Regions from separate parts of the Homo sapiens genome. Here region 1 is linked to region 2. Evidence: fine-mapped QTL for protein levels in blood plasma. Region 2 holds a variant in brackets. A gene starts in the other region. All regions are shown on their reverse strands.

Region 1 (5,391 bases), not on the chromosome of region 2:
AATATACTTTTCTGGGCTGGATGCAGTAGCTCACACCTATAATCCCAGCACTTTGGGAGGCCGAGGTTGGTGGAGCACCTGAGGTCAGGAATTCGAGACCAGCCTGGCCAACATAGTGAAATCCTGTGTCTACTAAAAATACAAAAATTAGCCAGATTTGGTGGTGGGTGCCTGTAATCCCAGCTACTCAGGAGGCTGAGGCAGGAAAATTGCTTGAACCCAGGAGGCAGAGGTTGCAGTGAGCCGAGATCCTGCCACTGCACTCCAGCCTGGGCGACAGAGTGAGACTCCATCTCAGGAAAAAAAAAAAAAAATCTATCTATCTATCTATCTATCTATCTATCTATCTATCTATCTATCTATCTATACTTATATATACTTTTCTTTGTTATCCATATTCATTTCAGAGAATGCAGTGCTATTGTAAAAAAAATGAATAAAATTAATATAAGTTTAGAGCACTTTTTTGGCATCAGTATGCCTAAGGAAAACTAATGTATAATACAGGATTAATGTTTTTCACACCATCTCAAATCTTACTGAATGCTGCTATCTAGAAAACAGTGGTAACTGAGTTACAATGGGACCTTAAAAGCAAAAAACCACTGTGACTGGCTAACTGAAAGTGATCATAGAGCCAAAACCATAATGATTGTCCTGCCCAAGCTTCAGCATATATGGTTGCAAAATGTGCGCAGTGTTAATGCCGTGTCAAGTGTCTTGTGGTATTTCATCAGTGTCGCTTACAAGGCATACTCAACATTTAACAGCAGGATCATTAACCATCCATGCTGTGATGTAATGGAATAGTGCTTCCCTACTAACCCTGAAACAAGCTCACTGTGTGTGACCTACATCCTTCCGCTGGATGAGTGTGAGAAAATGATGACACCACAGAAGCAAAGCAGCTGCTGTAAGTTGAGCCACAAGGAAGAAACTCTCAAGACAGGAAGAATAAATGCTTTAGAGGTGCACTAAAATAATGAATGAACTAATGTGGCATAGCTGTGAAATCATGCGAGGAAAAGAACTACAGGGACAGTAACAGAAGGTGGTTCTTTGAAGTAAAGACATTGAGAAGAAGAAAAATTGCCAACTTGTGTAATCAGTTGATGTTGCTAGTTAGCCAGTTTAAACATGCGTTAAAGATAAAGATCTGCTTGAAACCAATTATTTTATTGTTTGGCTTCCTGTTTAAAGATGAAAATGAAATATGTGTATATATGTGACATATTTTACCTAGCAGTGAGTAGATGCAGGAAGCATGTAAAATGCTTTGCTGAATTCACTAACGTCACAAAATATTCCTTAATAATTGCCGCGTTTGATAGGCTGACCTTATGCTAGCACAGGAAACAATGCAGTGGACTTGGGTTGGAGAGAAGAATTTTGACATTTGGATTTTTAAAAATCATGTATATTGAACCCATGAACTCTCATGTGGAACATCAGATTTACTATATTTTAAACAGAAATGCCATCACTATAAAAACCATTGCAAATTTGTCAATATACTTCCATTTAAAAAGCCTTTTCCTGCTTTTATTGATTTATTGATTAATTTTTTTTTGAGACAGGATCTCACTCTGTCACCCACGATGAAGTGCAGTGGCACAATCGTGGCTTGCAGCCTCGACCTCCTAGGCTCAGGTGATACTCTTACCTCAGCTACCTCCCAAGTAACTGGGAATGTAGGCTTGCACCACCATGTCTGACCCATTTTCTTGCAGAAATTGAGTTTTGCTATGTTGTCCAGACTTGTCTTGAACTCCCAGACTGAAGCAATCCGCCCACTTAGGCCTCCTAAAATGTTGGGATTACAGTCATGAACCACTGTGCTCCACCTCCTTTTTCTCCTTTTCAGATAGATTATGTATTCTGTACCTTTTGTGTAACTAACTTGTTATTACATAAACTATATTCTAAATACATTATAAATTATTGTGATCATGATATTTATCATTGAATTAACACTGCCTAAGTAGCAATTTTCACAGAAAAGATAATTTTAAAAGACCAAAATGGTTATTCTCTTGGAAGCAGTTGACATAAAATAACAGAATAATACAGATTAAAATTCTGTTTTCCAACAGCTACTAGTGGTAAGAAATATAGTAAGCTTCTGATTTGTAGAAACCTTAGCTTTCTCATCTGATGAGGTGGTTAATAATATTAACTCTCATATTTGCTGAAATAATATAAAATATTTAATATAAATTGTCAATTATAATGACTGGCATAAGGTAGAATTACAACAAATGCTAATTATATTTGCTTGTTTGAAAATTTAACACTCTATTAAAAGGCAAAAAAGTGCTCACCTGCAAATATTAATACATGCCTTCTGTTTAGTCCATAGAAAGCCCACAAGTAAGAGATTCAAAAGTGAAAGCTATCACTTACAGAAGATTAAGAATATATTGCATTGAGAAGATAGGGATTAAGGAGTTTATCAAAGGTTTTTTAAAAAATTATTTTCCTGAACATCATTTCAAGAAAGATAAGCGCCAAAGACATAAATATATTCTCCAGAGCATGTGCACTGCAAGTTGACAAATGTGTCTCTTTTATAGAGTTTGGTGAAGGTTATTCATTTTATTTTTCCTGTCTTGACCAGAAAATTGTGGCTTCTCATCATGTATGACTGCCTGCAGGGTCTTCTGAATAGGAAATTACCAATGCTGAAATTTGTATGACTTAAATAAGTGTTGAAGTGTGGGGGTTGAAAGGAGATACATATCAGAGACATCCATTCAGTTAATAGAACTAAGTTTTTGATTTGCATAGCTTATATCTAGAGCATTGTGTTTCTTATTTTCTATATTACTATCTTCTCTAACTATATAATTAGCACAGATTGAAGCTATAATGGATTTCAATAATAGCACTACTTTAGAATGATGTATACGTCTTTAAATCTTAAGACAAGCATAGGAAATATGTATATTCTTAAAAAAAGGAAAATTTTTTTAAAGTTTAGAGTTAAAAGAAACATGCATTTTCTGTTACATTTCAGATTATTTTAGTTAAAGAATCTTCTATGCTTTTTTTCTTCATTCTTAGAAGACTACCTGCAATTGTAAAGCATGAATCCTGTAATACTTCTGTAAATGAATCACTATTGCATTTATACCATTAGCCTCTGAACAGATTTCAAGTTGCTGCTGCCAACTCTCGCGAGCTTTGTCAGTAACAGTTGATTGTTACATTCAGTAACACTGAATGTCAGTGCAGTCCAATTTACAGGCTGGAGCAGCAGCTGCATCCTGCATTTCCCCGAAGTATTACATGATTTTCACTCCTTGCAAACTTTGCCATCTTTGTTGCAGAGAATCGGGTAAGTTGCTCTGAATTTACACCTTCGTGTAGAGATCCAAGTTACTGTAAAGCTCATTCTGTGGGATGAGAGTGATCTCTTCATGTGTTTGTTGTGTCCCTTTGGTGCTCTGTGGGGAACAGTTACTGAAGCTTGCAAATGGGACAGAGGAAGTGAGCCAGCAGGCACATGCATCAAATCTTCCTATTATTCAGGGAACGCAGACTTTGTTTATTTAACTGCTGAGAAAATAATGAATTTATTCAACTCTGTATAAAGGACCATAGCACGTGTGGAATCACTGTGATATATATTCTTAGTGAGTTTCCTAAGAAAAAACATTTCATACTGGCTTACCCTTAAATGCATTGTTTATTGAATCTCTCTGTAAAAGTAATCTTTGATTAGTCTTCCTTTTTTTTTCTTTTTAAATGGGATAAAGTTAGTAGTTAACTTACTTTTTCCTGAACAAAATACTTTTCTCAATCAACATTTTGTCACCTAAAACTTTAACAGTAACAACTGGCAAATGAGAGGTCTGTTTATTTTATGTAAATAAAAACAAAACCTGTTTTCTAATTTGATTTACAGTGATTTATGAGCGTGTCCCCTTTGCCCTTTGTGTTCACTTTTTATATGTTTGTTTAAATTGTAGCAAAATATTTTACATTTGCTATTATTTTACTATTATAGAAATAGTAAGCAAATGTACTTTCTGCTCATCCTATAATCTTGTAAAACTATTATTTTGATAACATCAGTTCCACTTTAACCAGGGAATTAAATATTAAGGATTATAAAATCTATGAATGACTAAAAGTAAACTGAAATGTGATTTCATTGTTTATGATTTCTATTTATTATATATTTTTATTTTATGAGTATGTCTTCTACATTTTTATGAATATATTTCATGATAATAAACTCAATTAGGAGCTCCTGTCACTAGTCTGTGTAATGCCTTCCTTAATATAAACTATCTCATAGTTACAATAAATACAATGACAGTTTACTTATATAAGTAGTTACTTTGTTTAAGGATAAGCGTGAGCTTTTAAAGTGTGACTTTAACATTTGAATAAAAATCTTCAGAATTTTCTCTGGATATAAAATAAAGTAGTCTTTTGGATGCCAAATAAATTTCTAATTGGGTTATCAAAGTTCTGTTTTGTTCTCCTAATTTTTTGTTGTTGTTGTTTGTTTGTATTGTCCTAGTTTTTTAATTGTAAAAATATGTTTGGGATGTATTCCATATTTCATTTTTATAAAACATAAGCTACTAATAGCTAAACAAGTCACATCTTATCTATAAATTTGGTTCCTTCTTCGAGTCATTTCTTGATAAGTATAATATATATTTACATTGAATATTATCTTCATTTCGATGGTTTCTTGCCAGCATCTGCTCATTCTTACCAAAATTAGACGGTCCCAGATGTTAAGAGAATTGTAATTGAATAGATAGCAACCTAAGAGGAGATTTAATTTTCAGAGAAGACTCAAGAAATCTCTCTAATAAATGTTCAAATTATTCACACAATGAAGTTTGCAAATGTTCTTCCTAATTGAGGACAGATAAAACATCTTAAGTTTCTTATATCTAATGTAGTGTCTTCTATATGTATACATGCCTAAAGCATAGCTGAAGAATCCCTGAAAGACAGTGATGTAGTCTATTTATAATCAGACTTCCTCAATTCCCCACTTCACTTAGTCTGCAACAAAACAAGCTTTTTAAGTTTGATATAAAGACGTCGTTGTTCCAATTTCTTCAAATACATTTAAGAGAGCTTGTTCTAGATCATATTAATATTATCTAGATGGCTCTTTCTCTACCATTTTAAGAGGGTTTATTTCCAAGTAGAAATAAATATTTATTTAATTGTAACTTTTTAAAAGATAGGGAAATTATACACAGGGAAAATATTTTGAATATTTGCTTGAACATCTTTTAAAAATTCTTGGCTTGTCCCTTATTTTGAAAATCTGGTTGATATTCAAGTATCCCAAAAAATAGCTCTTTATACAAATTATTTTATCACACTCACATCTTATAGTATAACATTTAGTATTTT
Region 2 (5,391 bases):
TCCTATAGTTAAAAAAAAAAAATTCTTCTAGACCCAACTCTTCCTTTAATGAGTTATATGAGTTATATGTCTCTGGGTATGATTTCTTCCCTTCCCTGGGTCTTAGTTTCCACATCTGTAAAACTAGATAGTCTGGACAAAGTGATCTCAAAGCATCGCCCACCTTCACTGCTTCTCTCTGTTCCTGCTGCTTCACAAATACAGTGCTTGGGCACAGGATTCAAAGTTCAGCTCTGGCCGTGAGTCACAAAACTCAATCCAGGTGCTTCCATCTGAATCTTGGAAAGACAAAAAAAAAAAAAAAAAAAAAAGCCCTAATAAAACTGATAGTCTGGCTATCTGGGTTCAAACCACAAAACTAAATTTTAAAAAAATAGAGGCAAAAGATATTATATAGCTGCTATATTCCTTTCTAAATTCCTTCCTGCTTGGTTTTCATGGAACTGTTTCCAAGAATAAATCAGGCTTCTGTTGCATTTGCATTGCTGGAGCCTCCTGAAGCAGGAGATAAGAGGCAGCAATGTCAAAAAGGAAACTGGGTGGTAGGGTGGGAGGTGGTGGCAGAAGGAGGCCTAAAGCTTGAAGGACAGGAAGGATTTAAACAAAGTGAGGACAAATCTTAAAAAACAAACAAACAAAAAGAGTAAAACCCCAAAGGCTTTTGGGGAAACTGTGAGGCGACCAGTTAGTTTTAATAGGAATTATCAGGGAATTAAGGAGAGACTAGAAATATAGGCAATCTTAAATGCTTTCAGCAAATTAAAAATGTGACTTAACATCCCAGTAGCTATAAGTACACTTAGCATCCAGATCTTGGTTTCTAGTAACACTGTCCAATATAAAAAGAACTAGCGTTCTTTGAAGAAATGTCTGATTCTAGTAGGACTGTAGCAAGAAATATACAAAATGAGTTTGGAATATCTTGAAATACCAGAAAATAAAGAAGTGATCAACAACGAATTTTTTAAAAAACCTACAATACAGCTGGGCACGGTGGCACATGCCTGTAATCCCAGCACTTTGGGAGGCCAAGGTGGGAAGACCACTTGAGCCCAGGAGTTCAAGATCTGCTGGGCAACATAGCAAGACCACACTAAATTATGTATAATTCTCCCCCTGCAATTTTCTTTTTTCTTTTTCTTTTCTTTGTTTTTGTTTTTGAGACAGGGTCTCACTCTGTTACCCAGGCTGGAGGGCAGTGACTCAATCTCAGCTCACTGCAACATCTGCCTCCTAAGCTCAAGCAATCTTCCCACCTCAGCCTCCCAAGTAGCTGGTACTATAGGGATGTGCCACCACGCCCGGCTAATTTTTTTGTATTTTGGGTAGAGACAAGGTTTTGTCATGTTGCCCAGGCTGGTCTCAAATTCCTGGTCTCAAGCGATCCATCTTCTTTGGCCTCCCAAAGTGCTGGGATTACAGGCATAAGCCACCATGCCCGGCCCCCAATTTTTTTTTAATTAGCCAGGTGCGGTGGTGCATGCCTGTAGTCCCAGCTACTCAGGAGGCTGAGGAAGGAGGGTTCACTTGAGCACAGGAGTTTGAGGTTGCAGTGAGCTATGATTGTGCCACTGCATTTCAGCCTGGGCAACAGATGTATGCTGTCTTAAAAAACAAAACAAAATGGGCCGGGCGCTGTGGCTCACGCCTATAATCCCAACACTTTGGGAGACCGAGGCGGGCGGATCATGATGTCAGGAGATCGAGACCATCCTGGCTAACACGGTGAAACCCCTTCTCTACTAAAAACACAAAAAATTAGCCAGGCGTGGTGGCAGGCGCCTGTAGTCCCAGCTATTCCGGAGGCTGAGGCAGGAGAATGGCATGAACCCAGGAGGCGGAGCTTGCAGTGAGCCAAGATCGAGCCACTGCACTCCAGCCTGGGCGACAGAGCGAGACTCTGCCTCAAAAAAAAAAAAATCGTACCATAATGGGGATATGTCAAAGGGATGCAGGAGCCAACTGAAAGAGCTACCAATGAACAAAGCTGGAAAAAATTAAGCAATAAAATGAAGTAGTGTTGATTTGTAACCCAAAAATAATGTAAAATAAATATCCATACTGATATAAGTAACTGAATAAATGGAAAGAGAAAAAAAAATCCTATAGGAGAATCCTAAATAATTGATGTAGATATTGTACCCTCCAGAAGAGGGAACATAACTCTCCATTCCTTACATGTGGGCTGGGCAGAGTGACTTCCTTCTAAAGAGTAGGAAAGTGGGGAAAGAGTACCTTAACAGTGGAGAAACCAGATAAACACTGCTGAACCAGGTGATCAAGGTCAACGTAAAAGTGATAAATCATGTTGGTAACATGTGCCTTTGATATGATGTCATTAGAATGGCACTTTACCTGAGGTCCTCTTCCCAAAAACCCAAAACCCCAGGCTAATCATGAAACAAAACATCAGACTAATTCCCATAAAGGGGCTTCCTACAAAATACCCAGCCAGTGCTACTCAAAACTGTCAAGATCATTAAAACCAAGAAAAGTCTGAGAAACTGTCACAGCCAAGAGGAATCTGAGGAGGCACCACAAGTCAATGTACTGTGGTACCCTGGATGAGATCCTCAAATAGAAATAGACATCAGGTAGAAACTATCGACTTTAGTACATAATAATGTATCAATATTGGTTCATTGATTATAACAAATAGAGCACACAAATGTAAAATGTTAATAATACAGAACATTATGTATATATGGAGGGCACATGGGAACTCTCTGTGCTATCTGCTCAAATTTTCCTTAAATCTAAAACTATTCTAAAAAATAAAGTCTACTAAATTTTAAAAAGTCTAAAAAATGTGACTTAGGAAACTACCATTAGCAGGCACTTGGTCAGAAACTAGGGTAAAACTCCTGCTCCAGAACCTTCCTCCCTGGGAAAGTGCAAGAGGCAGGCACTTTTCTCCTTACTGGGACAAGGCCAACATGTGGTGAGCCTCAGGGACCTGCTCACTTTTACCCAGTGAGCCTGTAAGCAGGATCAAGCCTTCCTTGTGCCCATCCAGACAGCTATGTGTGTTACCAAACTGAACTGGGTCTGTTTGACTGCATGCAATGAAAAGCCAAACATGGCTGGGCGTGGTAGCTCACGCCTGTAATCCCAGCACTTTGGCAGGCCAAGGTG[A/G]GAGAACTGACCAAGGTGGAGTTCAAGACCAGCCTGGGCAACATAGTGAGACTCTGTCTTCCCAAAAGAATTTTTTAAAATTAGCCAGGCCCAGTGGCATGCACCTGTAGTCCCAGCTACTTGGGAGGCTGAGGCAGGAGGATTGCTTGAGCCCCAGAGTTCAAGACTACAGTGAGCCGTGATCGTGCCACTGCCTAGGTTACAGAGCAAGACCCTGTATTTAAAAAAAAAAAAAAAAATCCAAACACCAAAGCACTGGGTTTTTGTAGAAAGAAAAGTTTATTGCAAGGCTGCAGAGAAAGACAGGAGCCTGGCTCAAATCTGTCTCCTGGAGCTGGGGGCTGGGGCAGGTTTTACAGGCAGAAGGTAATGAGGCATGATCTTGGATCTTGCAATGAGGTGATGCCAGGAAGTGTAATCTAACTGGATCTTGCCATGGGATGATCTTTCCAGGGCTCAATCTGATTGGATCATGCCATGTGGTGTCCACTGTTATTTCAGTCCCCGTTCCTTGGTCTGAGCACTTAGATTCCATCAGCGTTGCATTTGGTCCATTTGGGTTTGCTTAGGTTACCTGCAACATGGAGGTAACTGAAATGTAACCATTTTATAACACAAAGTTGAACCAGATTGGGCTGGTTTTGCAGTTATGCATGTAGAACCACCTAGCTGATGGCTCCCTTGGCTTATCTAACACAACATAGCCTCAGCTACACAACAGCAGATTGGGCGGGATGGCAGAAGGTAAGAGAGTGTGGGACCACAGTCAGACTGATTTCCACTGTTGGATTACATCAACAAGAAGCCTCAGTTTCAACCTGTCATTAACATCCCTTTAAACTTCCTGATTTCTCTTTTTAACAAGAAAGAACACATCTCAGACTCAGACCTTTCTATAGGCAACAACATTCAGCACAAATTTAATAGTATTTTTTGTTTTTATTCTGACAGTTACATTCTATATGTGAAAATATGCTAGCATTCAATTTACAATAGTAATAGAGTTATTTCCTTGGTAAATAAACTAGGTTAAGAATATAAAATAATCACTTTCACCTTTCAGTTTAGGGGAAAAAACTAAGTTTGAAAACAACTTGATGGTGAAGCTGTGGGTAAACATGCACTACTGTATACTGCTGAAGGGAATTAAAGTGGGTATCCCTTTCATTCAGTAATTCGGCAACACCTATCAAATTTGTAAATGCACTCACCTCTTGACCTAGTGATTACATGTTTCTATTTCTGGCAATTTTAGCCTTCAGATATGCTTACTGTACTAGTAAGCTCAGGCTGCCATAACAAAATACCAAAGACTGGGTGACTTAAACAACATAAATTTATTCCTTATAGTTCTGGATGCCAGGAAGTTCAAGATGAAGGTGCTGGCTGATTTGGTTCCTGGTAAAGGATGTCTTCCTGGCTTACAGACAGCCACTTTCTCACTGTGTCCTCACATGGCAGAGAAAGATCTCTGATGTCTCTTGCTTTTCTTATAAGGGTACCAGGCCTAATGGGTCAGGGCCTCACCATTATGCCCTCATTTAACCTTTATTACCTCCTCACGGGCCCTATCTCCCAATAGAGTCATACTGGGAGTTAAGGCTTCAGCGTATTTGATGGGGGAACACAAATACTCAATCTATAACACATGTATAAACAAAATGACATATGTTCAATCTTATAGACTGAAAAATTAAATCATAAAAGAAAACAGCAAGATTATTCACACTTTTATATATATATCATATATAAATCATATTTTATATATATATAATAGCACTATTTGTAATAGCAAAGATGTGCAGGTTAAAGCAACTCCATCTTACATGCTAATCCACCATGTTGACTTCTGATTAATCCCAGTTCCGGGAATACCTCTAAGATTTCTATTTTATCTACTGTTCCTTGTGTAAGAGCATGTACTTACCATAAATTCTGCACTTAGATCAAAACAACCTTGACCATAAATCCTGCCCTTAGGCAGATTCACATAGCATTCTTGCCTTTCCCTAAGGGGCCAACTTCAATTATCCTACACATTCCTTCTCTAGGGTATAGAAGCCCTGGGTCTGGGGGGTAATGGCCCAGGATCTACTATCTCCTGCTGAGATGATGGTTTCTGTTCATAAATCCCTATTAAATGTGAGACACTGGATTTATCAGCCTCTTTGGTCTGTCAGCTTCCTCAGCCTTTAGGAATACATTTACATAAGATCTGCCCACTGTGCAACAAAATAATAGGAACAAACCTAAATA

Which allele goes with the higher level. Positions count from the first base shown, and alleles are read on the strand shown. Strength reflects both the effect of a copy and how common the allele is.
With allele G in place of A in region 2, the plasma level of the protein whose gene starts at base 3,228 in region 1 is higher (weak association).

Evidence for each region. PIP is the chance, under the fine-mapping model, that this variant and not a neighbour inherited with it causes the effect. The UK Biobank Pharma Proteomics Project read protein levels with antibody pairs (Olink). The fine-mapping took linkage between variants from a reference panel, not from the people measured, so its PIPs are less certain.
Region 1: it holds the start of BCHE, and the variant in region 2 is fine-mapped to the plasma level of the BCHE protein (UK Biobank, PIP 0.96).

Annotation. Positions count from the first base shown.
Region 1 is chr3:165,835,260-165,840,650 of GRCh38, reverse strand. BCHE (butyrylcholinesterase) reads left to right here and starts at 3,228. Exons shown (of 4, transcript NM_000055.4): 1 at 3,228-3,337. RefSeq lists an enhancer at 3,116-3,410.
Region 2 is chr2:216,527,588-216,532,978 of GRCh38, reverse strand. It overlaps LOC101928156 (a long non-coding RNA gene), which reads right to left. Exons shown (of 3, transcript XR_923872.3): 3 at 3,396-3,709. Among named protein-coding and RNA genes, the nearest start is that of RPL37A, 31 kb to the right of the region's middle. The variant A/G (reference allele first, on the strand shown) is at 3,136.